Regions from separate parts of the Homo sapiens genome. Here region 2 is linked to region 1. Evidence: fine-mapped expression QTL. A gene starts in region 1. The other region holds a variant in brackets. All regions are shown on one strand. Distances are from middle to middle.

The links.
Region 2: its variant is fine-mapped to the expression of SCGB3A2 in whole blood (INTERVAL, PIP 0.99).

Annotation. Positions count from the first base shown.
Region 1 is chr5:147,872,777-147,888,240 of GRCh38, forward strand. SCGB3A2 (secretoglobin family 3A member 2) reads left to right here and starts at 5,935. Exons shown (of 3, transcript NM_054023.5): 1 at 5,935-6,082; 2 at 8,670-8,872; 3 at 9,251-9,415. The coding sequence starts at 6,028. The coding sequence ends at 9,274. It also overlaps a transcript of C5orf46 not described here. RefSeq lists enhancers at 768-1,433, 1,434-2,101, 2,102-2,767.
Region 2 is chr5:147,897,759-147,913,222 of GRCh38, forward strand. It overlaps C5orf46 (chromosome 5 open reading frame 46), which reads right to left and starts at 8,780. Exons shown (of 4, transcript NM_206966.3): 1 at 8,674-8,780; 2 at 3,871-4,015. The coding sequence starts at 8,743. The variant T/A (reference allele first, on the strand shown) is at 5,106.

The DNA.
Region 1 (15,464 bases):
TTTATATTTGATGACAAAGAGCCTAAACGCTATCTGATTTGGGATAAAGAAAAAGGAGCATTAACCTTGACTATGCCTTTAGCTCCAGCCACCTTTTTAAGGATAAATTGCTGGGCAGGTGGGGGAGGGCTAGTCACAGAAGGAAACTGTAAGCCGGACTAGGCGTGAGGAGGGGAGGCGATAAAATGATTATAGGGTGGAGGAGCGGAGGCTGAGGAAGAATTGGGACCTAGCTCGGCCTGTCGAGGAGGGGAGAGGTCAGATGGGTCTGTAGAAAAGGAAGATTAGAAAGACTTAGCGACGCTTGGGGTTGGTACTGAGGGGACAGGCGGGAGGGAAAGAAGGAAGATTTGGGTCAAGTTGCACTGGACACAGAGACTAGGAAGGGACTGATGTGTAAAAGAATGCCTGGACGTCAGGCACCTCAGACCATTTGCCCATTTGACGACAGTTTGTATTGGGGTCAAGCGGCATTGCAGAAGAAAATAAGACATTTAGGTTTTAGGTCAGGTATGAGTTGAAGAGGTTTTAAATTTTTGAGAACACAGGCTAAGGGAGAAGGAGGAGGAATGGAAGGTGGAAGCTTACCTATAGTGAAGGAGGCAAGCCCAGAGAAAAGAGTAGAGACACGGAGGAGGGGTTGCAGGGGGGTGGTTCTTGCCCTCCAGAAAAGCAGAGAAGGGGTAGGGGCATGGAAATAAGGGATTGGGGCACAGAGATAAGAGGTTGGGGTGTGGAAATAAGCGATTGGGGGTTCTTGCCCCCTAGGAAACTGGGACTTGCCGCTAAGGGTGAAGGAGAAGGGGTTGAGGGGTACTTGCCCCTGCCCCAGGAAAGCGGGACTTGCCGCTAAGGGTGAAGGACCAAGGCAGGCGTCCCTGCGTGGTCTGACACCCTTGAAACGTGAGTGTAAAATCAGAGAGGCGTCCCTGCAATGATTAAACACCAAGGGAAGGCTGCCTTCCCAGTCGGTGACCGGTGCCGGAGTTTTGGGTTCACGGATAAAACATGTCTCTTTTGTCTCTACCAGAAAATGAAAGGAATTGAAATTAAGATAAGGGAGAGACTGAAGTGTGGCGCCAAGATTGAAAGGAGAAAGAGGTTGAGGGATAGTGAGGGAGGTTGGAGAAGAGAGTAAAAAGAGGCCGCTTACCGGATTTGAAATTGGTGAGATGTTTCTTGGGCTGGTTGGTCTGAGGACCTGAGATGGTAGGTGGATCTTTCTCACGGAGCAAAGAGCAGGAGGACAGGGGATTGATCTCCTAAGGGAGGTCCCCCGATCCGAGTCATGGCACCAAATTTCATGCGCGTCCGTGTGAAGAGACCACCAAACAGGCTTTGTGTGAGCAACATGGCTGTTTATTTCACCTGGGTGCAGGCGGGCTGAGTCCGAAAAGAGAGTCAGCGAAGGGAGATAAGGGTGGGGCCGTTTTATAGGATTTGGGTAGGTAAAGGAAAATTACAGTTAAAGGGAGTTTGTTCTCTGGCGGGTAGGAGTGGGGGTGGCAAGGTGCTCAGTGGGTGCTTTTTGAGCCAGGATGAGTCAAGAGAAGGAATTTCACAAGGTAATGTCATCACTTAAGGCAAGGACTGGCCATTTACACTTCTTTTGTGGTGGAATGTCATCAGTTAAGGTGGGGCAGGGCATATTCACTTCTTTTGTGATTCTTCAGTTACTTCAGGCCATCTGGGCTTATACGTGCAAGTCACAGGGGATACGATGGCTTGGCTTGGGCTCAGAGGCCTGACAGTAGCCCCACCCAGGAGTTGACTCAGTGCAACAGGGCAGCTTCAACTCTGGTTTCATCTCCAACCTAACCAATCAGCACTCCTGACTCACTGGCCCCTCACCCACCAAGTTATCCTTAAAAACTCTGATCCTTGAATGCCGGAGGAGACTGATTTCAGTAATAATAAAACTCCAGTCTCCTCCACAGCCAGCTCTAAGTGAATAACTCTGTCTCTATTGCAATTCCCCTGTCTTCATACATTGGCTCTGTCTAGGCAGCAGGCAAGGTGAATCTATTGAGTGGTTACAGTAACAATACCATAACAAAGGCACAAGAAAAGGCTACATGGCTGTTTTAAAATGTAGATTCTATTCTTCTTGTGAACAGATCAGGAGTTGACTGCTGTTGAAAAGAGATTTTAGTGTGCTCAGATCCCAATACAAGGGGCCATGACACACCATGGGGCTGGAGGCACACGGGAAGCACCAGGGTTATTCAAGAGACAGATGGAGTGGAGGAAAATGTGAGCAGGAGTCTTTATTGTGGTTTCTGAAGGAAGACAGGAGAGATGGGGTAAGCAGGTTTTAAATGGGCTAGTGTGAATAATTTTGGTGGGCTCTGGGATCTTGGGGCTGTCCCTAGTTGGTCATGGGGTGATTAAGGCATGGGAATAATGGCCCACAGTGCACAAGCCCAATAAAGGTCGTTGGGGCTTTGGGCTCTGGATTGGTTAATTTGCATATGAAAGGCATGCTCCTGGTGATATCTCTAGGAATTAGCTAGTCCTGGGAAGGGCAGTCCTTTCAAGGTCAGCAAGGCCCCAAGGGGTCAAAACGTTAAAAATACAGAATTAAAAGACATGATTAATACAGTGGCTCAAAACATAGGAAGCCCAGAAGTGAACAAGTCCAAGTATGTTTTCAATTCTGAGCATACCCCCAATCCACTTGTTGTCTTTCACAGCTTTCTATTTGCTTCTTCAACAGCACTAACCACTAGTGTTTTCTGTTTGTTTACATGTTTCTTGCCTGTGTATCTCACTACATTGTCAGCTCCAGGAAGGCAAGAAATTTGCTTGTCTGGTTTTCTGCACTAGTCCTAATTGCTGACACAGTGCCTGAGACACAATGGATACTCAATAAACATTTGTTGAACAAATGAGTGAAAACAATAGTGTTTGATGGTTATCTGTGTATGCATAATATGATTTGCATGTACACACACATACATACTACTATTCATATATGTATATGTATGTGGATATTTGTGGGTGCTTTTGAGTTGATGTTTTTCATGTACATTCCAGTCAAGACTGCATGGCTGGCTGACTACTAGATAGACCCAACAGAAATCTATTTGCCCAGGGGTCTCAGGAATCTCCTGGAAAGAACTTGCCCTCTAGGACCAGCAGAGAAGCCTGATACAGTACCAATCATTTCAGAGGTTAAAAGAGAGAAGCATTTCTGCATGTATAATGCTATATTTCACCTGAGGAGGCCTCGGTCCTATCCCTCATGGATTTATAACTTGGCTTTTATAAGAAGTCAGTTTAGAAACTGGAAAACCTATTTTTTATTGAAAGCGCTACAATATTTTAGGATGCTGTGTCAGTCAGAGTCCAGCCAAAAAGTTAAAACCATACCAAGTGACCACACAGAAAGAATTCAACATGTAGGGTAATTTACAAAGTGCTAGAAATGCAGTTAAAGCAACCAAGCAGAAGATGAATCAACTCTGAGATTAGAAAATGCAGAAAGTTGTTACTCCTTCTAGGTCAGGAAGGACAGTGATGAGAAGGTGGGGTCTAGGAGCTGGGGCCATGCAGTAAAAGCTGGAACAATGTTGGCCTGTGTGGCACAGGGGGAACCACAGATAAAGGACCTTTCCAAAAGGAGATGAGCCTTGGAGAGGGTGCAGCCACTACCCATGATAGCTCCTGAATTGGAGAGAGGGAGACATATCCCTTCTCCTTTTCTCTCTCTCTCCACTCTTTCACCTGTGCCTTCCCCTGGCTTAACTTAATCAGATGCAGTTGGCAAGGAAGCCTGGAAGCAAGGAAGCCTGGAAACCACATTTTAAAAAGTCAACTTTCTATAATACAGAGCCAGGAATGAAAGTGAAGAGAAAGGATTTAAAAGCAAGCAAACAAATTTGAGGGCAGCACTGGTTTAGTATTCCAAAAGAGACCATAATAAAAAACTAAAGGGCGTCATTGTGGCAGGCTGGATCTCCACAAGCAACCAAGTCTCCATAAGCCCTTTGCTGTAATGATGAATGTGTAAGTTAAACATTGAAGAACTAGAGAAACTGGTGCCTGAGTAGGAGACCTGGAATGCAGAAACAAACCCGTTAAGACCCTACCTGGGCTTTCTCATCCTCAAACCTGATTGAGTGATAAAAGCATTCATGCACATACAAACCATACCAGGACCCATGTAAAATTAAGAAACTTTCCAGCCCACAGACCACTAGTTAAAGATTAGATTTAGGCTAAGTAGAAATACTCCTGCATATAGGCATAGAGCTTGAAATTCATTTATATATACTAAAGGAAAAACTCATAACTTTTAGTTGGTCTGGTAAATTACTCCGACCTTCTCCCTGTGGCTGGTTACAAAAATAAACTCGCTTCTTTCCCAGTTCACCTGTATCTCATCATTGGACCACGAGAGCAAGCAGCTGGACCCTGTTCCTCCGGCAACGGCATCAATCTTACCACCAACCTTGGCTCTTTGAGGGGCTTGGTATATTAATATCACTGGCATCAGTGGGAATATGTGGGAGAAATGGAAGCAGTACTGGTAGAGAAAGAAGGAGAAGTGGCAGGATTGAGGTGCATGGCAGGCATTCATGGTGTCTTTCATGTAGTTTATAAAGTAGTTTATAAAGTAGCAGAAAGATAAAGAAATGACAGTTACAACATGGTAACATAAAAATTAGTAAAATGTGACATAAATTAGATATTAATTTTGGTTTGGCATAGCAGAATGCTCTGTCTGCATAATTTTATTAGATCTTCATTACAATACCACACCCTCAGATGAGGACAAATAAAGCCCCAACCTCTGGCCTTACATCTTAAGGTGTGTTTTCTCAAAATTTTCTGGGTTCCACTTTGGTGGTGGGAATGGCTGGAGCCAGCAGTACCACGTGGCCGGGGAGCCCTGAGCTGGTCCTGTGCCCATATGGACTCCGCTTTCTATTTCACCCCTTCATGGTTCTTTCTTACCCTCTTCCTTGCATGTCGGGCCCACTCGATGCCCCAAAGAACTCCAGGACTTCTGCTCACAAATGAAGTTGTCCTGAGGTCCTGTGGCTGAACCCTGGATCCAGAAAGACAGCCTTGGAAACAAATTACTACTCCTGTAGCCAGTACCTTACAATTACGTATTTTTGAATGATTTTATCGGATTTGATTGCCAAAGAATCTTGCAAAAACAATTTTTTCCCCAAGCTACACACCTTATGGTTGGTTGTGTTATTTATGTTCCCATTTTAGATGAGAGGACCAATATCCTAGATTAAAAATGTCAAATCCAAGATTACACAAACAGTGAAAATTGAATCCCAGGTTTTTCAAAAGACACTCTGATTTTAGATCTTAAGCCTATTATTCTATCCAAAGGCTCAGAGAAGACATGCTCTGAACATACTCAAAGTAACTGACACTGGAAAAGGTAACAGAGGTGTGAAAATCTTACCATAGTAGATGTGTGAGTGGGCTGGGGGCAGGTGAATTCCAGAGAAATGTGGCACTAAATGTCATGAAGCTGACTCTGTATTATACCAGAGTGGCCTCCAGATTGCTTTCACAACTGGGTAGTTCATCAGCTAATGTGATTCTCCAAACTTTAAATGATTAGAAAACTGGGGAAAAATGTAGAAAACCAGAGGAAAACACTCCTTCTAATCCAAATATAAATTCTTCACTTCTTTTCAATGTTCTTCCAGGAGAAGGATTCGTTGGGCTCTTTGCCTTCTGCTTTTATTTCTGTGCAAGGGTTTATGCAAGAGGTACTTGAGAATGCTGTACTGTAGAGCTTTGTTTCTCATGGGAACACACGGGGAAGTGGAAAACCCTCCAAATTGTTTGGTGAGAAAACATAACATTTATCCCTTTCTTTGGTGGGGTGAGTCAAGTGGTAGGGACTAGAATTCAGGTCCTCAATGGGCATATAAATATGTGTGTGCAAAAGCAGCCATCACACTTTGTATGGCAAGTGGAACCACTGGCTTGGTGGATTTTGCTAGATTTTTCTGATTTTTAAACTCCTGAAAAATATCCCAGATAACTGTCATGAAGCTGGTAACTATCTTCCTGCTGGTGACCATCAGCCTTTGTAGTTACTCTGGTAAGTAACTGGAATACATCTGGAATATGTGACATTTCTTTACTTTTCTGTTAATAAGAGCACAACTAGTAAGCCTTGCCTCACTGACAGTGGAATATGGTGGTAGGAATTGTATTTTTTTTTATTTTACTTTTAACTGACACATAATAATTGCACATATTTGCAGGGTTGGAAGAAGTTTTGGAATCACAGAAAATGGTGATGTTGGAAAGTATTTCAGATCCCCACCATCTAAGCTCTAGCCCAATATAAGTATTCTAATACATCCTACATAGGAAGTTAGCCAACTTCCACGGAGGGTCAACAAAGCACATTTCACTGCTGGATATTGGTCACCATTCGTTTTTCTTATTTTCCTCAATTTTGAGTTAAAATTTGACTTTATAATTTCTTTTGTGCTTTTGAACTATATGGAGTCATTCTTGCTATCATCTCCAGTTATCCAATTTGCTAGCTTGGTTCTCCTGAGATAGCTACATTCATCTGTTTATCCACTCAATGGATATTTATTGAATGGCTACAATTTGTTGGGCACTGGATAGGCATTGGAAGATTTAGACATGAAGCAGTCATAAATATTGTTCTTAAGGTGCTACTCTGGTAGGATAGATAGGGCTTCTGCCTAAGTTACTATAATTCTAGACTACTGTAAACGTACTGTGAGATATCCAGATAGAACTCTTTTAGTGTATTGGTGGGTGATTAGTTTAATTTTCAGGTAAGGGTATAGAAGCTGGCTTCTTGGAGGAGAATGGGAACTGATTTATTTTTTTGGAAGGAATCATTGTAACTATCAGGAAGACAGTGTGGGCACATGGGAAAAAGAGATTTCATGATAGCCACTGCTCATTGAGAGAACAGAAGGCTTTGAAGATCTTCTCCCAGGAAGCTGTAAACACATACAGAGAAGATATTTACCAAAATGTCTGAAATAAGAAGTATGGAGATTAATAATGAAAAATTGATTGCCGCCCACACCTACAATGGCAACTTTGGCTTTTGATGTTTATTGAATTTCTGAAGGAATTTGTAACTTCACCAGTTTTGGATATTTCACTGTTCTCTAATGTCCAGGGACAGGTATCTATGGGCAAAGTGGCAGCAGAAAGGAGGTGGGGAAAATAAATACCGCCCCCTCTGGGTGAGAATTTTGGAGGGACAATAGGTGATTGAAAATTTAAAAAAATATATACAGGCTCCATTTTAATAATTTGAATGGGGAAATAATAGGTTTCCAAAGGAAAATAAACTATGGCAGGTCTTAGCCAGTAGGAGGATGTGTGTTCTTACGTGTGTGCTCACATGCATGTGTGCATTTATATATCTGCACATGTTTTTGTAAAAAATACATCGTACATATTTTCCTCAATCTCTACTTTTTCCCACCATTCATCTTCTACGGGAAAGTTATCTTCCTAAAGCCAAAGATATAAAACGTAATTTTCCTATGTAAAAGCCTTGATAGCGCCCCACTGCCCTCAGGAAAAAAAAATCCAAACTCCTTTGTGTGACATCCAACACTTTAAAAAATCTGACCTCACTCAACTTTTGCAGCCTCACTCCCTTTATCTTCCATCCTTTGGTCATAGCCTATTGGAAATCTGCACTCCAGCCTTCTGGGCAGAAGGCTCACCATCCTGTGTATGCACTTTTATCCTAATGGTTCCGTGCCTTTATTGGTCATGTTTCTAAAATGCTTCTCCTCTTCTTTACCTTATGATCCTGACATTTGCCTCAAGACATAGCTCTAACAGCACTTCTGGAAAATTCCTGCAGCACTCTTTCATGTTAGAATTAGTCATCCCTTTCTTGTGTTTCCATGGAGCTTTGTCCATAATGTTAGCATAGCACATGCTACACTGTGGCATACACAGATCTTCTATCACCAACTGGACTGTGTGAAGTCTCTGAATGGGCATCCTTGTCTTATTTGTCTATGTATCTGCACAGACTAGATAGAGTTGGTGCTCAATTATGTTTGTAGCGTTGAGTTGAATTGGTTGGGAGCAGTTTCTTGGGCTGTGGTTGGGTCCATTCCTGTCTTTATGTGGAGATTCACTATAGCATCTCTCCTTTAGCCTCAAAGCTGTGAGCTGTGGAGACAGTCACATACAAAATACCATCGCCTTCAGACAATCACAATGATCTGTTGAATGCTTACGCTGCCAGGGTCAGTTGTAGGCATGGGTGCATTAGCGAAAAAACACACATTCCTTGTTCTCATGGAGCCTCCATTCTAATGAGAAAATAAAGACAATAAAAACAGCAAATGAAGAGTTGCTTTTTTTAGGTAATGGTAAGAAAAAATAAATGACGGAGAGTGACTATGGCCATTGCAGGCTTCTCCGAGGAGGTAATATTTGAAGAGAGACCAAATAATGTGAGAAAGAAAGGTAAGTAGCTAGCTAAGGAAAAAAAGTTCTAGGGAGATGGAACAGCAGGTGCAAAGGGCCAGAGGTAGAAGTTTTCAATGGAAGTAAGATGAGTGGATCTGGAATGGAGCTATTGATGGACACAGGGAAAGAAGATGAGGTCATAGTCTGGGCCCAGATGTGCCTGTCTCACCTGGTTTCTCTTTTTCCTGCAGCTACTGCCTTCCTCATCAACAAAGTGCCCCTTCCTGTTGACAAGTTGGCACCTTTACCTCTGGACAACATTCTTCCCTTTATGGATCCATTAAAGCTTCTTCTGAAAACTCTGGGCATTTCTGTTGAGCACCTTGTGGAGGGGCTAAGGAAGTGTGTAAATGAGCTGGGACCAGAGGCTTCTGAAGCTGTGAAGAAACTGCTGGTAACCACAGCTTGGGAGGCTAATCTGCCAAAGGGGAGGCATACTCACCCTGAATGTCTAGCTCCTCTTCTTGTCCCTTGTAAATGTGCATTTCCACTTTACTGATTATATTCATAGGAAGTTTGCACATCCTGGAATCTCAGGAAAAATACAATTTCTACATTTCTGGGAAGGGTTTTTGAATGATAGTGACATGTGTTATAGTTGTGACAATACCATTTACCACCTTCGTGATTTTGGATGAGACGTAATCACTCTGAGTTTTTGTTTCCCCATCAGTAAAATAGTGGCCAAACAGGACACTGGAAGTGAATATGTTTTGAAACATGCGAATTACATGTAAGCTGCTCTAAATTTTGTTGTCCTTCTACATTTCAGGAGGCGCTATCACACTTGGTGTGACATCAAGATAAAGAGCGGAGGTGGATGGGGATGGAAGATGATGCTCCTATCCTCCCTGCCTGAAACCTGTTCTACCAATTATAGATCAAATGCCCTAAAATGTAGTGACCCGTGAAAAGGACAAATAAAGCAATGAATACATTTTCAGTCGTCCTATTTTTATTTCTGGGGACTCTATTCAGAAGGACGTATCCAGATTAGTTTTCCCTTGGTTCATAAACTCGAGAGAGCCTGTTTTTATAAAGAAAACCTGGAATCTTAAGTAAGACATAATCATTCCTTCTCCTTTCCTTATCTCTAATTTAAACATCTCTATTTTTCCCAAATGTTTTATCTCACGGTGTTTTCAGACCCTTCACTTTCCTATCCCCCATCCTAAATAAATTTTTACATTTAAAAAATGAAAAAATAATTTTCAAAATATTGTCTGATAAGACTAGCATCTTACTAACTTCATTGGTTTGGCTTCTGTTTCACTAGAATGCTAGTTCTTAAGTTTGTAGTTAAGCTATGGCCACTCAATAGCTTTCACCAATCCTTCCACCAAGTTAGGCCTTTACTACATCATCCTTAGGCAAATGGGTGATGAACTATCTTTTCTTTCCTTTACTCTGTCATCTACAGTGATGACAGAATTATCTTTCCAAGGAATTATTCTGGTAATATCATGACGGCCTGTAGAGCAGATTTCAAGCTTCTGAGCATGGCATGCAAGGCTGTTCATGATCTGGCTTTTGGTTACACGTCTAGTCTTCTTATCTACATTCCTTTCTTCACATGCGCTCTACTCCAGCCACACTGAACAGATAACTAAATCCTTTTCCCTCTAACACTCTTACACCTTAATGAAAAATCAAGTTTCTTCCTACCTAGAATGTCTGCCACCATCGACCTTCAGACCTGGCCTGTGTCAGTCTTTGGACTGTTTGCTGTCAGGTCCATTTCCTCCACTTCCCCTGTTCTGCTCTGCTCTGCTCTGCTGTGTGTTGAGGCAGGACAGGAAACATGATACTGATTGCTGCAGCTTGCATTTCTCAGGTTCCCAAATCAGCTGACATTTGGGCTAGGTTCTGCCCCTGGGAGGCGCAGGCAGTAGATAGGAAGTAGGAAAAGAGGAAAACTATTGTATGACCCTTTCTGGCTCTGTATTAGGGAGAAGTCTCTGGAAATGACTGTACCACGTCTGAGCTCCAGGTCCTGCTAGATAGGCCTGCCTTGGTCCCAGCTTTTGCTGGGTGAGTCCAGCCTCTGGGCTCTGGTTACACCACCTCCTTTCTTTTTCTCTCCAGCTGAAGTTAGTGGTTTCCTCCTGTTGTCAGTTTCTGGGTGCCTTACCATCACCTACTTGACTTTTAGCTCTTCTAATGTCTATTCAATCAATTCTTTGCATTACATTCCTTCTGTTGTAAGTACTTTGAGTAGTTTCTGTTTCTTAATTGGTTTCTGACTAAGATGATGTTAAATGTTATCTCTAGGGATATTATCTTAATTTCCTTCCATTGCTTGACTTCCATTTTTTGGCAACTAAAATAGCTTTCACTCTGTGAAATTTCCTACTTTATTTCCTTATTTTACCTATGCCTATAATGATAGATTAGGTTGCCCAGCTGCAGTAATAAATAATCCCAAATCTCAGTGGCTTACGTGCACAGTGTGTCACTTGTTCCTCACAGTATGTGGCCATCTTTGGTTGGCTGTAGCTATGATCAATGTTTTATGAATTCTATACAGGAGCTGATGGAATAGTCTCTCTTGTGCATTTTGCTTATGTTTACAGGGAAAGAGAACTTGGTGAACAATGAGCTAACTCTTAAAGCTTCTTCTTAAAAGTGAAGTATATGACTTCCAATCATGTTTAATTGGCCAGAGCAAGTCATTTGACCATGTTTGACTTCTTTAGGAAGGGGATGTATAATTATCCTATAGGAAAGAGCAGTGCCAAATATGATTAATGTAATGTAATTGACCACATTACTTGATGACTTCAAAGTAATTGTCACCTTAGATGACTCTCATACTTGCAATTTTCTTTTCTATTGAATTACATGCCATCTTTCCGCCTACCTTAGTTTTCTGCTATTTGACCACTATTTTTCAGTTTCTTTAAATGGCCCTTATTATTTTTGACTTCCCTTGGACATTGATACCTCCAAAGATACTAAACTTGATTCCCCTTCTATTTTTACTCTGTGTATAACCTTTATTGGAGAATCTTATGTACTACCATGGACGCCAATATAATCTTTATGTTAGGAACTCTAAAATCTATGGCTACAATCTATACCTTTTTTTTTTTTTTAAAGAAGAGATTTAGTTACCTATAAGACACCTCCAAGGGATGCTCTTTTTTAGGTTCAACTCAAACATTTTTACCTGAACTCATTGTCTCTCTTTCAAAACCCACTCCTATGTTTTAATTTGCTATTCAGTTTACAGCACAGACATTTTAGTGGTTGCCTGAGACAGAAACTTGGGAATAATCCTAAGTACTCTCTGTCATCAGCCTCCTTTCTGATTGGTAAGCAAGCCTTATCAACCCTTTTCACAACTATTGCACACATTTTTCATGATCACCACTGGTACTGTTCCTAAAACTTACTTTCTTTCTTTCTTCTTTCTTTTTTCTTTCTTTCTCTCTCTCTCTCTCTTCTTTCTTTCTTTCTTTTCTTTTTTTGAAGTGCTATAGTGCCATCACAGCTCACTGCAGCCTGGACCTCCTGGGTTCAGGTGATCCTCCCACCTCAGCCTCCTGAGTAGCTAGGACTATAGGCACATACCATCATGCCTGGCTAATGTTTTTTGTATTTTTTTAGATACCATGTTGCCCAGGCTAGTCTTGAACTCCTGGGCACAAGCGATCCTCCTGCCTCAGCTTCCCAGAGTGCTGGGATTAGAGGCATGAGCCACTGTTCCCAGCTGCAGATCTTGTCATTTCCCTTCAAACTACTGTGTTAATCTCTCAAGTGACTTTTGTATTCCCAAAGGTCCCCTTCTAATCCATCATCCATACACAGAAGGAGACTTCCTAAAATACAGGAATTATTCCCCAACTTCAAATTCATCCATAGTTTTTTAATGCTGATTGAAAAAAAAAGAGTCAGACACTATGTTAAATCAATAGACACATTAATAATATAAGTTTAAACGTATTTGTTTTCATACTTATTTCAAAGTCTCTTTTCTAGACTGTCAAGTTAAATGGTTAGTGACTCTAATGTACATGTCTGTATCCTCAGCACATCGCACAGAGCCTGAAGATAGTCGGTGTTGGTTCTGTTGAATAAATGGGATTGTTTCTGTTAAGTTGTATCTGATTGGGTTGGCCCCTTTGTTTTGTTCCACTAGTCATATTATTAAGCCTTTCATTGCTCTCTCTCTCCCAGTGTTTTGCATATTTGAGAAGGATGCCTCTCTATGTCTTCACTAAGGTATTAAATGGAAAAGATTGGGGATAAAGTTCTCTGCCATTGTACTCTGAGTAATAGCAGTAATCTGACAGTTTACTGGGTTGGAAGGTTTTTTTTCCAGGGGTGTATCAAACAGAGGGATTAAGAAGGAATCTGGGGACAAATTATGTTTGGGAAGGCAGGCAGAAACTGATGATAAACATTATCATAAAAGTGACAACACCAAATGCTGGTGAGGATGTAGACAAGCTGGATCACTCACACATTGCTGGTGTGAAAGTAAAACAGTACAGCTACTCTGGTAAAATAGTTTGACATTTTGTTAAAAAACTAAACATGCAACTACCATAAAACCCAGCAATTGTACTCTTGGGCATTTATCCCAGAGAAACAAAAACTTATATTTATGCAAAAACCTGTACACAAATGGTCATAACAATTTTATTTTAGTAGCCAAAAACTGGAAACAACACAGTTGTTCTTCAGTGGATGAATGGATAAATTTTGGACATCTTTGTAAAGAAATACTATTCAACAAAAAAGGAGAACAAACTATTTATATACACAGTAACCTGGATGCATCCTTAGAGAATTATGCTGAGTGAAAAAATGTCAAACCCCAAAGGTTAAATTTTGTATACTTTTATTTATGTAACATTCTCAAAATGACAAAATTATAGAAATAAAGAACAAATTTGTAATTTCCAGGGGTTAAGGAGACGATGGGGGCAGGAAGGAAGTGAGTGTGTTATATAAGAGCTGTATGAGAGATCCTTATGAGGACAGAAATATTCTGTGTTTTACCTGTATCAATGTCAGCATACTGGTTTTGATGTAGCAGCATAGTTTTGCAAGATACTACCATTGGAGGAAACTTGGTAGAAAATATGCTGGATTGCTCTGTATGATTTCTTAAAACTTCATGTGAATCTATAGTTATCTTAAAAAGTTTAAAAATTATTTTAAAGATCATCAGAATATAGAAATATATACATATAATTATCATATAATCATATGGAATATAATTAACATGTTATATATAATTATATACAACTATAATTATGTATAACTGTAGTTACATATATGCATATATGTAACTTTCATTCTCTTCATCCATAAATTCCACAAATTAGAGGAAACCACTGTTCACATTGATGTGCTTTTTTCAAGACATTTTCTAAATATTTACAAACATACATGAATGATACATTGCACATATGAATGACATATGCCTTATTTAAATTGTTATCTATGTGAATATTAATTTAATTTATATAATGTATATTATATTGTTTCTAATATCTAATTATATTTTTTGTTATTATAAAAAGTGCTATAGTGAGCATGCATATTTTGCATACATTTTTGTCTTTATGTCTTCAGAAAAACCTTGAAAGTGGAAATGCAAGGTCCAGAATTACATGGTGTCTAAAATTTTGATAACTAGTCACACATTTCAATGGGGAAGAACAGTTGGTATCTCAGGTGACTGAGGTCGGAGAAGTGCCATTTCCAAAGATGGGATTAGGGACCCAAGACAATGCCTAGGGTATGATTGTTCTCCCTAAGCTAGCTGTAAATCCCTTTTTATTATGTGCTGGAGGGTCAAGCCATGCAAGGTATGAATTATATGATTTCTTAGTTTCATGTCTAAGATAGGCAGTACAACCAGACAGGTAAGTACAATTTATTTGCTACATTATTTTTTATTTTAGAAAGCAACCAGATGAAGAGCTCGCAGGCTATTGAGGCAGATTAAAGACAGCAGAGGGCGCTCATTATTAGCAAAATCAAGGAAAACATTTGTGTATATATGCAAGGTAGATAATGAGAAATATCAGCACCTTCTATTGCATTAAATTTTTCACTGGGGATTCACAACTAAATGGCAACTACCTGATGCTCCCCCTTTCTAGTAACTACCTCTGACTTCATTTCAAGCATTGTTAAATGGTGCATTCTTTGTTCTGTCCTTAACTCTCTCATTATCAAATGAGAACTTGTTTTCTGATACTGACAATGACCATAATAACAGTGATAGCTATTGGTCATTCATTGTTTCCTCCATATATTTTCGATTCAGCAAATAATTATTGAATATTAGTTGCAGGATCTTTGCTGGACAGGAAGCATACAGTAATAAATTGTCATGACCCATATCTCCATAGATTTCACAGTGTAAAGGGAGAGATAGAAACCACACAAATAAACATGGGTAAAAGGATAATTATAAGTTATGATAATAACAATAAAGGAAAAGAATAGGATCCTAAGAAAGGTCACAGTGACAAGAGATTGCCTGTTTATTTTAGGTCATTTCTATGGACATGCCAAGTTGGGACTTGAGGTTGGAAGAACCCATCTTAACCAAATAATATTCTGTGTGGAAGGTACTAAGTGCATGAATATCCTGAGGATAAGGAGAACTTGGCTTCTTCAAAGAACTGAAACATCACCTGTGTTTCAGTGCACAGGTGGCAGCAGGAGCACAGGGACACAAGCCAAGGTCAAACCATGCATTAGGTGTCATGGTCATGGCCCTGTATTTATCCTAAGAGCCCAGAAAAGCCTTGGGAAATTTTGTATCCAATGTTCTCCATATACCTGAGTGGCAACACTGCATATGCAACCATATCCACTTGCATTAGTCAGACTCCTACGAGTCATTCCTGATACTTCCCTCTCCCTGACACGTCATGTAGAACTAATCACCATGTCCTGTCAACCTAATGTCTTAATATTCTCTTGAATCCTTCCACATGGTTCTGTCTGCATTGACCCTC
Region 2 (15,464 bases), 25 kb after region 1:
TTTGTTTTTGAATTGGGCTTTAGAAAATGATTAGACTTGCCAAGTGAACAGAGTGGGGTTTTGGCTTTGGGGCTAGGCATTTTCAGCAGAGGGAAAAATCACACGCACAGATATTGGGGGTTTATACAAACATGACCTGCTTTAAAATGAAACTCATTAGTCATTGGGGCTTCAGGTTGCAGAGGTGAGAAATGTGACTGAAAGATACATTGGCATCAGAGAAGGACATTTGACATCAGCCTAATGCATTTGCTTGAATTTTGGAGGCAATGGAAATTCATGAAAAACTTTCAAGCATGGCAGTGATATGACCAAATTTAAATTTTTTTGATATAAAGTTCTGGTAGTAGGTAGAAGATGAATTGATGAGACAGAAGGTGGAACTTATTAGAAATCCAATAAAAAGAGAGACAGAGAAAAGTGAAACTTATTAGAAATCCAATAAAAGGAACTTGGGAAAGAGATGATAAAGGACTCAACTTGACCAACTAGTCAGTGGAGCTGAGGAAGAGAAATGTATATAGGGTGCATATACATATACCCGAGGAAGGTATATAGGGTAGAATATTCAGCAATTCGATGAAGGTGATGATGAGCAGGAAGGATTTGAGAAGATCCTTAGATTTCTGGATTCTGGGTGGATGATGATGTGACTTAATGAGATATGGAGGAAGGTTTTGAGTGAGATGATGGGCTTGGGTTTAGACCAGTGGAATTTGAAATAGTGGTAGAAAAACGATGGAATTTTGTAGCAAGCAATCAGTTATTCCATCTGGAGCTCAGGAAAAAATTGCAACAGAAATGTGAATTTGAAACTCATTAGATTATAGGCAGTGTTCCCAATGTGTAAACTGCAATGTGAAGAACCAAGCACGTTTGGAATTCTGAGGAACAATGACATTTGGAGGGCAGGTGCATGAAGAAAAGTCAAATAAAAAGAATGAGAAAGAATGGCTAGTGGTAGAGAGAGAACCAGGAAAATACATCATGGAACCCAGAGGGGAAAATATTCCCTAGAATTAAGGGCTCTCAAAGGGTGAGAGGAGTTAAGAATATGTATATTTTTCAGAAAAATGATGAGCAAAATGCAGTCTAGGTAGCTCCAAGCTGATCCAAAAGCAAGTGGAGAGAACAATCCAGTCTATTCATTGTTTCAAATGCATGTCTCTAGCATTTACTATGCATCTGACACACCACTTAGGCATCAGACATATTGGAGTAAATAAAGTAAAATTCCCACCTTTATGAATCATTGTTATTCCTCTCATTCTCTCTTCCAAATCAAATATTGTTTAGTCATTCAAGGCCCAAATTACATCTTGCTTTTGCCATAAACACTTCCCTAAGCACACTGGACCCATTGAGAACTCCTTTCGCTGGAAACTGCCTGTGATCTTTGGCTGACATTTATCTTGCTACTCATTTTTATTTATGGCATTGTGCATTGGCTTAAGTAATTTTACCATAAGGACTGCAAATTATTTGAGGAGAAGGGATTAAGAGCCTAGACTATTCCTTCACAATCCGTGTCCCTGCTTTGTACATGTTAAGTGCTTAGCAATACTTTCTGACGTCTCCTCCTATCCTCCACCCCCTATTTTGCTTATGGTCTTCCCTTGAGCAGGGAGTTATGGGTATGTTTTAGATCCTGGCTCTACCACCCGCAGATTTATCTCTTGAGCAGATATTGCTGTGTCTTTGAGCAAAGATCCTTCAGGATTTCTCAGTCAAATTGAGGTAGATGGGCTTTAGGTCTGATCTGCAAGATATCTTTCCTTAATTAATTAATTCAAGTGCCTGACACTATATGCCATGTACTGTGCTCTTGCAACCAGTCAGGTGATTTGGTCTCTACTTTCACTTAGCTACTTGATTAAAAATAAATAAGTCATTTCGGATGGTAACAAATATTATGACACTGTAACAAGGTAAAGTGATAGAGAATAACAGGCAGTGGGAATGGAAGAAGACAGTATTAACAAGAATGGTCATAGAATAGTTTCTGAGGAAGTGACTTTTAGATTAGCTGTAAGCTCAAGAACTAGTCATTAGAAAAGGAGAGTATTTTAGTAAGGAGGGAGAGCAAGGGAAGAGAGCCTGAGATGGTAATAATTTCTAGCAACAGAAAGAAGGTCATTTACTCAGAATGTAATGAGGGAAAGGGAAACCAGTAGATGAAGGGCCATTTCTGAGCCTAGAGCGGACAGCAATTCTTTAGCATATCAGAGAGTCGACTCTTATGGTTAACACAGAGAAAAATGTCCTATTTTATACTTGGAAAATTCCCTAGGGAAGGAATGAAAAGAACTCTTAGTGTTCTAACTCCTTGTTTTGCTGTGTGGATGTAACAATACTAATTCAACTGGAGTCTAATCTTTAGTTTGTATGTAATGGGTGGTGCTCCTATTGTCGGCCTATGACTTTCCTTCTTGTTTACATTAACAGTCTTGGAAAAATAACAGTTGCAAAAGCAACCACAGTAGGAAATGTAACAATTAAAAAAAAGCACCTGTGAGTTTTAACAATTTGTGGAGAAGGATTGCCTGTAGAACACTGCCCAATCAGATGACAATCTATCCCTTTAAGCAGATCAGAGATTACAAAACCCCTGATTACTCCTACATGGAAGTGGTTCTTAATCTGCTATTGGTTAAAGACCCCTTTGAAAATCTAATAGAAGTCATGAACACTTTCCCCGGGAAAATGCAAAAATAAATAAATAAATAAATCACACTGACACAAAATATTAATAAAAATGTAAAGGTTTTGTGGATCTTTAAGGCCCATCCATGCAACCCAGAACATCTGATCAAGGCATGGCTTTTGAAAATTTCTGTATATCAGAATTACCTGAAAAGCTTGTTGAAAACCATATCCATGGCCTTGTCCCCAGAAAGATGCAAAATGGGATGCAGAAATCTGCATTTTTAAAAATAAATTCCCCCAAGGGATTCTGTATCAGGTGGGTATACCACACCTAGTCAAACTCTGCTTAAGGATCTATATGGGAGAAAATTAGAGAGCAGAGGCTTAGAGCAGTGGAAATTGAAAGCACCTGGAAATTTGGAAGAGTGAATTTCATCTTGGAGAACTGAAATTTGGGAGATTAATATGGGGAGAATAAAGCATACAGTGTAGTAGTGTCAAATCAAAACTATGTAGGCAAAAATAATATGTATTGGGAATTAGACACAGGCTTGGAAGCAGGCTGAGAACATTGGGAAGACTCTGGGATTGGTGATCTGCCCGAAGGCAGTCTCTCATGATGAAAACCAACACTCATGTTGAGAGGTTCTCTAGATTGTCTTTAAAGAGAGGTTATCTACTGTCTCTGCTAACCTTCTTGAGCTACTCAAGCTAGAAAATATAGGCAGGACTCCTCACACCCATCACTAACGAACATATCACTACCTCTTACCTTCATCACGTAATCACAGTGCTTACAAGGGGCGGGCCATCTATTATTTTAACTTCACAGTTAAAATATGAGCAAATAGAGGCCTTCAGAGTGGGAGGGCCTTGTTCAAGACCACCTAGTAAAATAGCAACTGAGTTAGGATCAGAACTTGGCTTTTTGTTCCTTAGTCTAGTGTTCTTCCTCCTCCCTATTTGCTCCTGAGATTAAAAAGAAAAAAAAAAAAAAATCCTGTATGGAACCACTTGATGGGAATGTCCTTTCCCCCAAAAAGCTCAGGGCAGTTGATTCAGATGCAAAATATATTTTAAGTAGGGCAACATTTTTCAATGAAAAATAACACATTTACTTATGCCACAAATTTTGTTTCTCATGTATTTTAATGCCATGAGGTCATTGTGTGGTCATTATCAACAGAGAATTGGACAAAAAGCAACGTTTTTCTCAGTGCTTACGTGCTCCTGGACATGGAGCGGAGGATGAACTCGACTGCATTCTCAATGATCTCTGTGCCCAGGAGGCTTAGGAATTTGGGGAAGTCTGGCTTTGGGTCTTTGCCCGAGTCGTCTGGCTTGTCGTCTGGCTTGTCTGGTTTGTCGTCTGAAAAACAACAGAATCTCAGAGGTGATTCTCAGCAACAAAGAAGGAATCATTCTTTCTGTGTGGGGAACGCTTGGGATTCTTTCTGACCCACTCACAAATTTCATAGCCTTATATGGTTATATTCATCGAACATTTAATGCCTGTCTGGATAAAATCTTCACATGCATTGTCTCATTTATTTGTAAAAACAAACAAATAGACCGACTGATATTGATACTTAGGTAGACACTGGCACCGCCTGGTGAGTGAGAAAACCAAAGTTCCCAGAAGCTAAGTACTTATCTCAGAGTTAAGCAGCCAGTAAGTGCCAGTGCCAGGACTGACATACAGAATGTCTGTTTTTCCATATGATCTCCATGCCCATGGTAATAATAATATTAAAGATAAATTATCAACTGGGTGAGGTGGCTCATGCCTGTAATCCCAGCACTTTGGGAGGGTGAGATGGGAGAATTGCTTGAGGCCAGAAGTTTGAGACCAGCCTGGGTAACATAGTGAGACTTCCATCTCTACAAAAAGTAAAAAGTAGCCAGGTGTGATGGTGCACACCTGTAATCCCAGCTACTTGGGAGGCTGAGGCAGGAGGATCTCTTGAGCCCAGAAGATAGGGGCTGTAGTGAGCCATGATCGTTCCACTGCACTCCAAGCCTGGGTGACAAAGTGAGACCCTGTCTCTGAGAAATAAAATAAATAAATAAAAATGAAATATCAATGGGTAACATTTGTTGAATACATGCCTATGACGATCTACATGGATTGTCTTATTTTATCCTCATAGCAATTCTACAAGGTAGGAACAATTATCCCAATTTAAAGGTAAAGTAATATAATTTGAGAGATGTTTAGAAACTGGTTGAAAGTCACATAGTTAGTAAGTGGCAGAAATACAATTCAAACCCATGTCAGTTTGGCATTAAAATTTGGATTCTAAAGTACTCTATGATGAGCTGCACAGTCTTTGATGGAAAAGTTATGCAATTTGCACTTCTTTTAGAAGATTCAAAATAGTATAACAATAATGATGACAAAGCAATTCTATCCCTTGCATATCACCTAGTAGTTTCATAAATAGTGATTTTACAAATGT[T/A]GTGTAATTTTATCCCCTGAGCAATCTTACAGAGTATGCATTTTTTAGCTCACTGAACTGAAAAGTGAAAGGATTAAGAGGCTTACAGAAGACCTCATAGACAGTAAGAAAAATGCTAAGATGATAACTGCAGGCCTCTTAACACTAGATTCTTAAGGGCCCATTGGAATGAGGGCCAAGGATCCAGAGTGAGGTTGATTATATTCAAGGTCCCTTGGGGGCTTTTTGACTTTGCTTGATTGTCTTTATTCCCAGGAGATGAGAAGAGATGGAAGAGTGACAGTAGCTACATGTGGTCGCCCCTCTGAGCCCTGGTCACAGGATAAAGTGGGACCTTTATTTTTTAATTGTATTGTACCCTGACAAGTAATGTTACCAGACTGGGTACATAAAAATACAGGATGCCTAGTTAAATTTAAATTTCAGATAAACAACAAATGCTTTTCTGGTACTATAAAAAAGATCCATGCAATAATTAGGACACCCTGATGCTGAAAGATTATTCATTGCATATCAGAAATCCAAATCTAACTGTGTTTCTCGTAGTTTATCTAGCAACCTCAGCACAAGTTTTAACTCAAGAAGTCCCAACTTCTAGACAATGTACCCCTGACTTTGGATAAAGGAGATGTAACTACCTTTTGTGTGGAGGCTGCCAAATTATGTCAGAAACTTTACATCTATATTATATCCTAAAATGGAAACTATTAGTAAAAAAGATTGGCAGGCAATTCTATGAGCATTTATTGTTTACTATGACACAACTAAAGATTTGATAGAAGCACCAGTTTGGGACATATAACCAAAATCAATATACTAATCATCACCTATTCATATATCCAATGATTGGTTCCTTCATTCAAAAAGTATTTTTGGGCCTACTTTTTTAATGTTTTATTTTTGAAACAGGGCTTCACTCTCTCGTCCAGGCTGAAGGGCAGTGAAGTGATTACAGCTCACTGCAGGCTCAACGTCCTGGGCTCAAGACATCCTCCCACCTCAGCCTCCTGAGTAGCAGGGACGACAGGCATATGCCACCACAGCTGGCTAATTCTTGTATTTTGTGTAGAGACGGGGTTTCGCCATATTGCCCAGGCTGGTCTCGAACTCCTGGGCTTGAGTGATCTGCCCACGTCGGCCTCCTGAAGTGCTGGGGTCACAGGTGTGAGCCATCCTGCCTGGCCTGAGCCTACTATTATGTGCATAGTTATGCTAAGAGTCAAGGTAAAAAAAAAAAAAGACAACTGTAGATATGACCTTCACATAAAGTGCTGGGCAACCCAGGTACTCAGAAGGATTGGTTTGTTTTTATTGTGGGAAGGAGGCGGAAGCGGAACTCATGTGTAAGGTGCCTATCGTGCAGGTACTCCATCAGTGCTTTCAGCACATGCCTTAATCGTCATTTAGCTCAGCAGTGGTATCACAGTTACAGCAGAGAAGACAGATGCTCAGGAAAATTAAATGACTCACCTGAAATCACTCATCTAGAAAGTGGCTGACCCAGGGTTTGAACCTAATTTTTTTTAACTCCACAAAGCACATTATTCACATTGTATAATACAACCTCCAAACAATTGTTCTGTAAAGACATTTGCCAAATGCAAAGCAGTAATTTCTTGCATGAAAGATGAGATTTTTTCTCCTGTGTTTCTATCTGGCTACTTGCATAATAAATTCTATTGACTTGTTATTTTAATATGACACTAAAACCTGGCTTTTCAAGATGCAAGAAGCCTGGGATTGGAGTGGGCGGAAATCAAAATCTTGGCCTTAGCTTGTGAACCCCATATATATTGAGAGGTATTAAAGTGTGATGGATTGCATGCTCTGGAGTTTTATAGATCTGTCTGATTCCTGCCTTTAACAAAAAATTAGCCATGTAAACTTGCACACAGTGCTTAACTTTGCATCTCTCAGTTTCCTCATATGTTGTCAGGATTGAAAGATATTTTATATATTATATATCTATATATATATACACACACATACATATATCTATATTATATATACATACATATATCATATATATACCACTTATCGTAGTACCAATCCCAAGATAAACTTACCTTATATAAATAAATAATAAATGAAAGAATGAATAAATAAATGTTATCTGTTTTATTGTTACTATTAATAATAATAGCAGCAAAATGATTTATAATTCACTTTCTCCTCTAGTGCTTTAGAAGATAATATAAATTTTAAAAATGCTATTAAAATATTAAACGATTGATATCCTAGAAACAATCTTCAAAGTCAATAGTTTAATATTTTCTTTTTTCAAGTATTATATGGGATAGCCTTTATTTACAGTAACTACTTTGTTGAGTTTCTTAGTGAATGTGAATATAATGTTCTTAATAAACAGTATTGCTGATATTTGTAGAGTTTTAATAGTTTACAAAGTAATTAAAAAGCATATTCATTTGACCTGGTGAAGTTGATAGTTATCCCGTTTTACAGATAAAGAAACTGAGGTTCAAAGCAGTGAACGATTTAACCAGTTTCAGAGTTTATAAGAGACAGGGTGGTGCCTGGTCTTGGTATCAAATCTCTCCTTTCACTTCACTGTAGTGATTTCTTTAGGAGTAGAATGGACTGAATAATATCCGTGGCCATGTCTAGAGTAATTCTGTTGTAATGTCTGTCTGTGTGTTCTTCAGCCAAGTTACATTCAAAGGATTCTGTCACTAAATGTTTGCACTCCCTCTGTTTTCTGGTCTATCATTCTGAATGGAGCTCACAGACTTTTGCAGACAAACAGTAAATTAATTAATGAGAAGGCAGCATACAGCATGAGCTTCTATGTGCTTGGAAAAGGTGGGAAAGAAATAGTTGCTCGATAATAGTAGAAAGAATCTAGGAACCTAGGTTTCACTCCCAGATGCCACTTTCACCTGTATGTATGCTCAAGTAACTTGCCCTCTGCAACCTGTTTATTAACCTGCAAAAAGGAAAATGATAAAACTGTACATGTTTACATCATTGGATTACTATGAGAACCAAATGAGATTATACATGACAACAATAGCAGGTAGTATTTATTGCATGCTTACTATCAACCAGGTACCCTTCCAATTTGTTTCATTCCTTTTATTTAATTTTCATGATAACTTTACGAGAAAGTTAAATGTCCCCATTTATATGTGAGGCCTAGAGAGATTGAATAGCATTCCTAAAGTCACATTTCTGGTTAGTGGTAGAGCCAGGTACAGGAGTTTTATTCCAGAGTACATATTCTTCACCAATGAACATTATTAGGAATAATTATCAAAAAATAAATGCCAGTCAGCTCCCATGGAATTTATACTAGAATAGTGTCATTATATCATAAGAGCACATAAAAAAATTTCAAACTTCATACATCCACTGAAAATAGAGGCTAGGTTTTTATTAAAATTCTACTTTCTTTGTGTTAGAAGATACACCTCTTGTCTCCCAGGCCAGTGCTCTTTCTGGAGTGCCCAAAGACCCCTTCTTTCTTTTATGTTCTGAATCAGTGCCATCAGCTTTCTCTAGTCACTGCTAACTACTGAACAATTCATGGGCTGTGATCAGAAGCACTTACCTGCATAGCAGGTCAGGAATAAGACAAGCAGTCCCAGGACAACTGTCAGGCGAAGTACTGAGACAGCCATTCTGGTAGCACGGGGTATTCGTGCAGATAAATTGTTCAGATACATGTGAAACAATGCTCCATTTATAGGGCATAGATAGGTGACATCATCTGCTTTGGAATTTAGATTGTTGCACAAGATGTCTGCACAGCTTGCTTTTGGATCTGTACTAATGAGACATACCCTATCATTCAAACCAAACATTTTACATATAGGGAAAGAAAAACCCTCTTGATTTTTAAAATTTGTATCTATAAAGGGTTCTGGAGTGAATCTCTTGAGGCTAGTTTCAAGGCCAGCATTGATAATTAAAGGGATATCAGGTAGAATTGCTCGTCAGTGCCAAGCAGCAGGCAACAAATCAGATTGGCAAGGCAAGCCTACACCCTCCCTTTACACTCTATGCCTTCCCTCGTGCTCTGGGACAATCCCTTGTTCCCACATGGGCATGCCCTTTCACACCCCATGCGTCTGCTCTTGCTCTTCCTTCTTCCTCAGATACCCTCCTCCTTGTCTCCCTTCGGATCACTCCTACGTATTCCTCAGTTCAAATGGTCCTTCTTTGTGATACCTTCATGATAACCACTCCACCCTTCTCCAGGCAGTTTGTTACTTCATCATCTGCCCTATAGCACACTTGACCCCATTGTATAAGAACTAAGTGTTGGCTGGGCGCGGTGGCTCACACCTATAATCCAAGCACTTTGGGAGGCTGAGGTGGGCGAATCACGAAGTCAGGAGTTCAAGACCATCCTGGCCAACATGGTGAAACCCCGTCTCTACTAAAAATACAAAAAATTAGCTGGTCGTAGTGGCAGATACCTGTAATCCCAACTACTTGGGAGGCTGAGGCAGGAGAATCGCTTGAACCCTGGGAGGCGGAGATTGCAGTGAGCGGAGATCACACCACTGCACTCCAGCCTGGGTGACAGAGTGAGACTCTGTCTCAAAACAAACAGAAAACGACAACATAAACTGTCTTATTTATTTTACTTTTATTTTTCTCTTTTTTTTCCATCAACTTTTATTTGAAGTTCCAGGCTACACATGTAGCCAGCAGGATGTGCAGGTTTGTTACATAGGGAAACATGTGCCATGATGATGATTTGCTGCACAGATCAACCTGTCACCTAGGTTTCTTTCTTTCTTTTTTTTTTTTTTTTTTTTTGAGACTGAGTCTCGCTCTGTTGCCAGGCTGGAGTGCAGTGGCGCGATCTCAGTTCACTGCAACCTCCGACTCCCTGGTTCAAGTGATTCTCCTGCCTCAGCCTCCCTAGTAGCTGGGACTACAGGCATGTGCCACCATGCCCAGCTAAGTTTTGTATTTTTAGTAGAGACAGGGTTTCACTATGTTGGCCAGGATCATCTCAATCTCCTGACCTCGTGATCTGCCCGCCTCAGCCTTCCCAAGTGTTGGGATTACAGGCGTGAGCTACCGTGCCTGGCTGGCACCTAGGTATTAAGCCCAGCATCCATTAGCTATTCTTCCTGATGCTCTCTTTCCCCTTGAAACCCTGACAGACCCCAGTGTGTGTTGCTCCCCTGAATGTGCCCATGTGTTCTCATAGGAGAACTAAGTGTTTTAACAGCTCTCTTCTCTTTCAGCTTGTGGATCCACTTATTTGTTTATTGGCAAAATATTGTACATATTCGTGGTGCACAATATGATGTTTTGAAATATGCATATATTGTGCAAAGGCTATATCTGGCTATTTAATACCCAGACTACTCATACTTATCTTTTTTTGTGTGGCGAGAACACTTAAAATCTGCTCTCTTAGCAATTTTCAAGTATACAATACAATGTTATTAACTATAGCCACCATGATGTAAAATAGATGTCTCAAACTCATTCCTCCTATTTAGCTCAAATTTTATATCTTTTGACCAACATCTCCCCAATCCCTCCCACTACCCAACTCCCGGTCTCTGGTAACTATCATTCTACTCTTTGCCTCTGTGAGTTCATCTTGTTTAGAGTCTGCATGTAAATGAGATCATGTGGTATGTATTTGTCTTTCTTTGTCTTTCAGTGCCTGGTTTATTTCATGTAACATCATGTCCTCCAGGTTCAACTGTGTTGCAAATGATAGAATTTCCTTCTTTTTTAAGGCTCTATAGTAAATAGTATTCCAGTGTATACATATCATGGTTTCTTTTTCTATTCACCTGTTGATGGACACTTAGGTTGATTCCTAGCCTGTAGGTCTCAAGAGAAGAATGTTTTATTACTGCTGAATCCTCATGGAGCCTACTCTATTGCCTGGTCTTGGTCTCACCTTTGACTTCACCTCCTCTGAAAGTTTGTTCCGGTTTTTCCAAATAGAGATAGATGATCCTCTGATGTACCTGCTAGGTCCTTTTTAAATGTCTTTACCAATAGGCTGTAGGCTTCTCGAAGGCAAAACTATCTTTTTTAGAGTTGAATACATATTAACTGAGGCACATGGCAAATACCAAAACACATACATACACACACACACACAAAACAAAACAAAACAAAACAAAACAAAAAAACAGCAGCAGAAGAAAAAATAATCTGGGAATTGATTAAGACCAGTCTTTCTCCCCGACTGCCAGACTCCATTGCCTTGGTCTCTATACCCATACCCATCACCATGGTTCCCCTTGAATAAAGTCTACCTTACCATCTTTTTTTTTTTAAAAGAAATAATTAACTGGATTAAATATATTTGCACTTGGTGAAACAGAATGTTGGATTTGAGATGCTGCTATGTATTTCAGATGTAAAATAATCTCCCTTTGCAATACACGCAAGAGAATAAAGTTTGGTTCAAGTCTAGATGATATTGGTTATCCTGAGGAATGCTATAAATTCATTTAATTGGAATGTGGACTTGGGAATACCTAAACTTATTGATTTACCAATACTTATACTTTGCATGTGTCAAAATACCATTTTATAAATGGGAAAGTTAACTAAAGTATGGACAAAAGGAGGTTCATCCAGCATCTCAGAGCCAAGGCTAGGGCAATGTTTCTTACTTACTAGTTATACTCTTCACAAGGCACCAAACCACTTCTGGAACATAATCAGGCAGCTCTGTTGCACCTTGTGTGGTGTGGCCTTCCAAGGCCTTCCCAACGTATCTTCTCAGGAAAACACTGGTCTTGTCTCTCTTGCACAAAGGGTTGAATCTAGACTCTAGACTCTAGATCACCACTGTTTGTATAGGACAGACAAGGCCAGAGTCTCTAATAAAATCTAGACATTAAAAGGCCTTCATTGAGGTAGATTTATGTCATCAGGGTCACTACTGATGACTGAGCACTGTGATTGTCCAAGAGGCTAGTAGGGGAATGACATTCAAGTGTCCTCTATCAGTTAGGCCATGGATCCTGACACATTGCTGTGTTTGCCTGGGAAAGGGTACATATTTTTCTAATCATCACAAGGGCACTCTATAGATAAGAGCAGGCTGTAGATACAGCAACTTAAGACAGAAATTTGCTGGCTTCTTAGGAATAGCAGCTGGACAGGGCAAGCAGACAAATCCTAAATCAGCTGCTTTTGGAGGTCTGGTGTCAAAAAGCTAGCACTGTCCTGAGTGTCAGGATAGCTGGCCTCGATTCCTGTCAGTAACACTAGCTCATTGCATGGTCCTGATTCAATACCCTCCGTTTTCCCTGCTTCTTGTTCTTATTCTTTCTCTCCTCTTGGTTTGTTCCTCATAGCTTCAGGTCTCAGCTAAAATGTCTTGTCTTTGGTGAAAACTTCTATGACTCTCTAATCCAATTCAGATCCCTATGTGATTAAGTTTTCTACACTCTGTATTCTTTCTTCTCAGCACTTAATTTTTGATGATTTAATGTCTCTCTTTCCAAGGAATGTTAACATCTCAAAGGGAAGCATTCTGATCAGTCTTGTTCAGGGAGATGGCTTTGCTGTCTAGGATAGTGCTTTGTTTGTAAAAGATACCCAACAAATATGCATTGAATCAATGAGCTAATAAACAATTCTGAGAAGAGGAACCAGGTTCTTTTGGTTATTATCTGTGTGACTCTGGCAAATGACAGGTACCCTGTGGGTCTCAGTTTCTACATCTGTAAAGGGACATAATATAAATTTCTGCCTATATATCAGCACCATTGTAAGAATATAGGAGATAAAAATGAAACACCTGATAACTGTAAAGAGCCCTTAATGTTGGCCGTATAAATAACAGTTAAAAAGCTGTGATTTATCTTCCATTGCCATAAACAAGTGAATTTGCTTTAGGTTAGATGAGAAACTGAGATTATGAAAGAGGGTTTTATCCAAGCTGGGAAGAAAAAGAGAACCTTCTTCTACAACACTATTCTAGCTTGGGAAGAAGGTATAGGAATGAAGGAAATAAGAAATGTTTTAATTCCTACAGACTTTTCCAGACTTAATTAAAAATCATCTGAGTGGTTTTTTTTCTCAAGGTAGAAAAGAATTACAATTTGGGTTGGCAATCTCATGGAGAGATTTCAATGTATGCATTAGTGTTAAAAGCACAGGTTTTGGGATCACACAGAACTGAGTTTGAATTTCAGATTTGCCCCTTACGAGCTGTGTGACACTGTAACCTTAAGATATTTTTAATTTCTCTGTGCTTTGGATCCAGTGTCCATAAAATAGGAATAATGATACCTCTTGGTGTTGTTATAAAGATTAGATAAGAAAATTTGTAAAACTAGCACAGTGCCTTGCAAATACTAAGTGAAAAATAAATAATAAACTTGTCTATTCTATTCTATTCTATTCTATTCTATTCTATTCTATTCTATTCTATTCTATTCTATTCTATTCTACATTGAGTTGTCTTAGAGGAGGGAGAGAGACATTTTAGGACCACCACCACCACCACCACCACCACCACCACCACCACCACCACCACCACTAATAATAATAATAATAGGCTGCCTCCTCTGGTCAGGTGCTGAATTAGATACAATGTATCAATACAATTGTTGAGAGGCTACCATTTCCTCATTTTATACAAGGAAATTTAAGCTTAGAGGAGTTTTCCCAAGGTTACAAATTATATACGAGCCAGAGCAGGGAATTGGACACACGAACGTGTGATTCCAATGTTCCTGCTTTCAGCTATTCTGTTAAGTTGCACTGGCATATGCTCATGGTTGCTACTGGCAAAATGCCTGGGCCAAGCGAGGAACACCATGTTACCAACCTGTTTGCCCACAGATTCATCTGTGCCAACTCTGCTTTTTTTCATTAGCCTCTGAATAAAGTTCTGGCCTATTTCATTCACTATATTTTTGCTCAGTTTGATATAGCAAACATGCAGTTTACACGGTGTCTTTTTTATCCTCGGCAGAAATAGGACTGGAGATAGGGCTGTAGGATAAAATACATGATGCCCAATTAAATGTGAATTTCAGATAACAATGAGGAATTTTTTAGGATAAATATATACCAAATATTTCACAGGAATTCTTATACTAAAAAATTATTTGTTGTTTAGCTGAAATTAATTTTTTCTTACATTTTTAGCTGAAATTTAAATGTAACCGGGCATCTGGTACTTTTATTTGTGAATCTACCTGGAGAAGCCCTCATAATTCTTCTCTTATTAAAAAACCCGTGATCAGGGAGTGCAGAATAGGACTGAGAGAGGTTACATAAAGGATTAAAGAATAGTATGTGAGAAGTTGAAATCAAATGAGGAAACTAGAAGTCATTAAAGGGCTCTAGTTCCTCTTTAACATCACATCTGGAATATGTTTCCTCCTTGAAAGCCTCATAAAGAAATCATAAAACCCTCTCTTGTTCTTGGTTCATTCCAGCTAAAGTTTCAGACTAGTCTTGGAAGGGATGCATGTGGCTTCAGCTAGGGGTGCCATTCCCATGGTGTCTACATGCTAAGGAGTGGTCACACTCTTTGTTACCCTAATCACCTTCCTCTATGTAGCTTATACATTAGTCAATCTTCATGCCATAGATCCATTTAACAGTTACTTTTTCAGTGAACATTTATTTATTGAGCTTATACTATTTGCCAGGTACTCTGCCAGACACTGGGGACAAGAAAATACAAAACAACAGTCCCTGACCTACCTTTGTTGAGGAGGCAAACACGTAACCAAATAATTGCAATTTAAATATGAGAAATGCTAATGGAGTTGTGAACAGATTCCTATAGAAGACTAACAGGGAGTGGTTAACGTTGCCTGCGGGAGGGGGTCACAGACAAATCATTGTTTGGGCCTTGAAAAGTGATTGTGTAGGTGTTTACTATGCAACCAAGGTGTGGAGAAGACACCTCAGGTAGGAGGAATGACATCTGTGAAGACACAGAAGCATGGAAGAGCATTGCATATTTCTAGGAATGAACCTCAAATTCTTCAGTGTTATTAGAAGTGAAGATTGAAGTGAAATAACTTAATCTCAAAATTTGTTTTAATTAATGAGCATGTTGGAAGGAAAAAAATGGAGGGGAAAGAGAAGAGAGAAGGAACAGAATGTTTGGGAGTGGAGAGTAAAAAATCATTAAGTATTTAAACTCTTAGCTAGGAATTTTTTCTCTCTTCCTGTTCCCTAATTAGAATTTCAGATAAGGACATTGCCATGCATCAAATTATGTTAGAAATGTGAATTTTCTTTACCTTTTATTATCACAGAACCGATTTTCTCACAAAGTGCTATCAATTTTCCTCTTAAATATCCTTAAAATTTATCAACTTCTTTCACGTCCACAATAAGAGTCACAGTTTGGGGCTTCGTCTTGACTCTTGC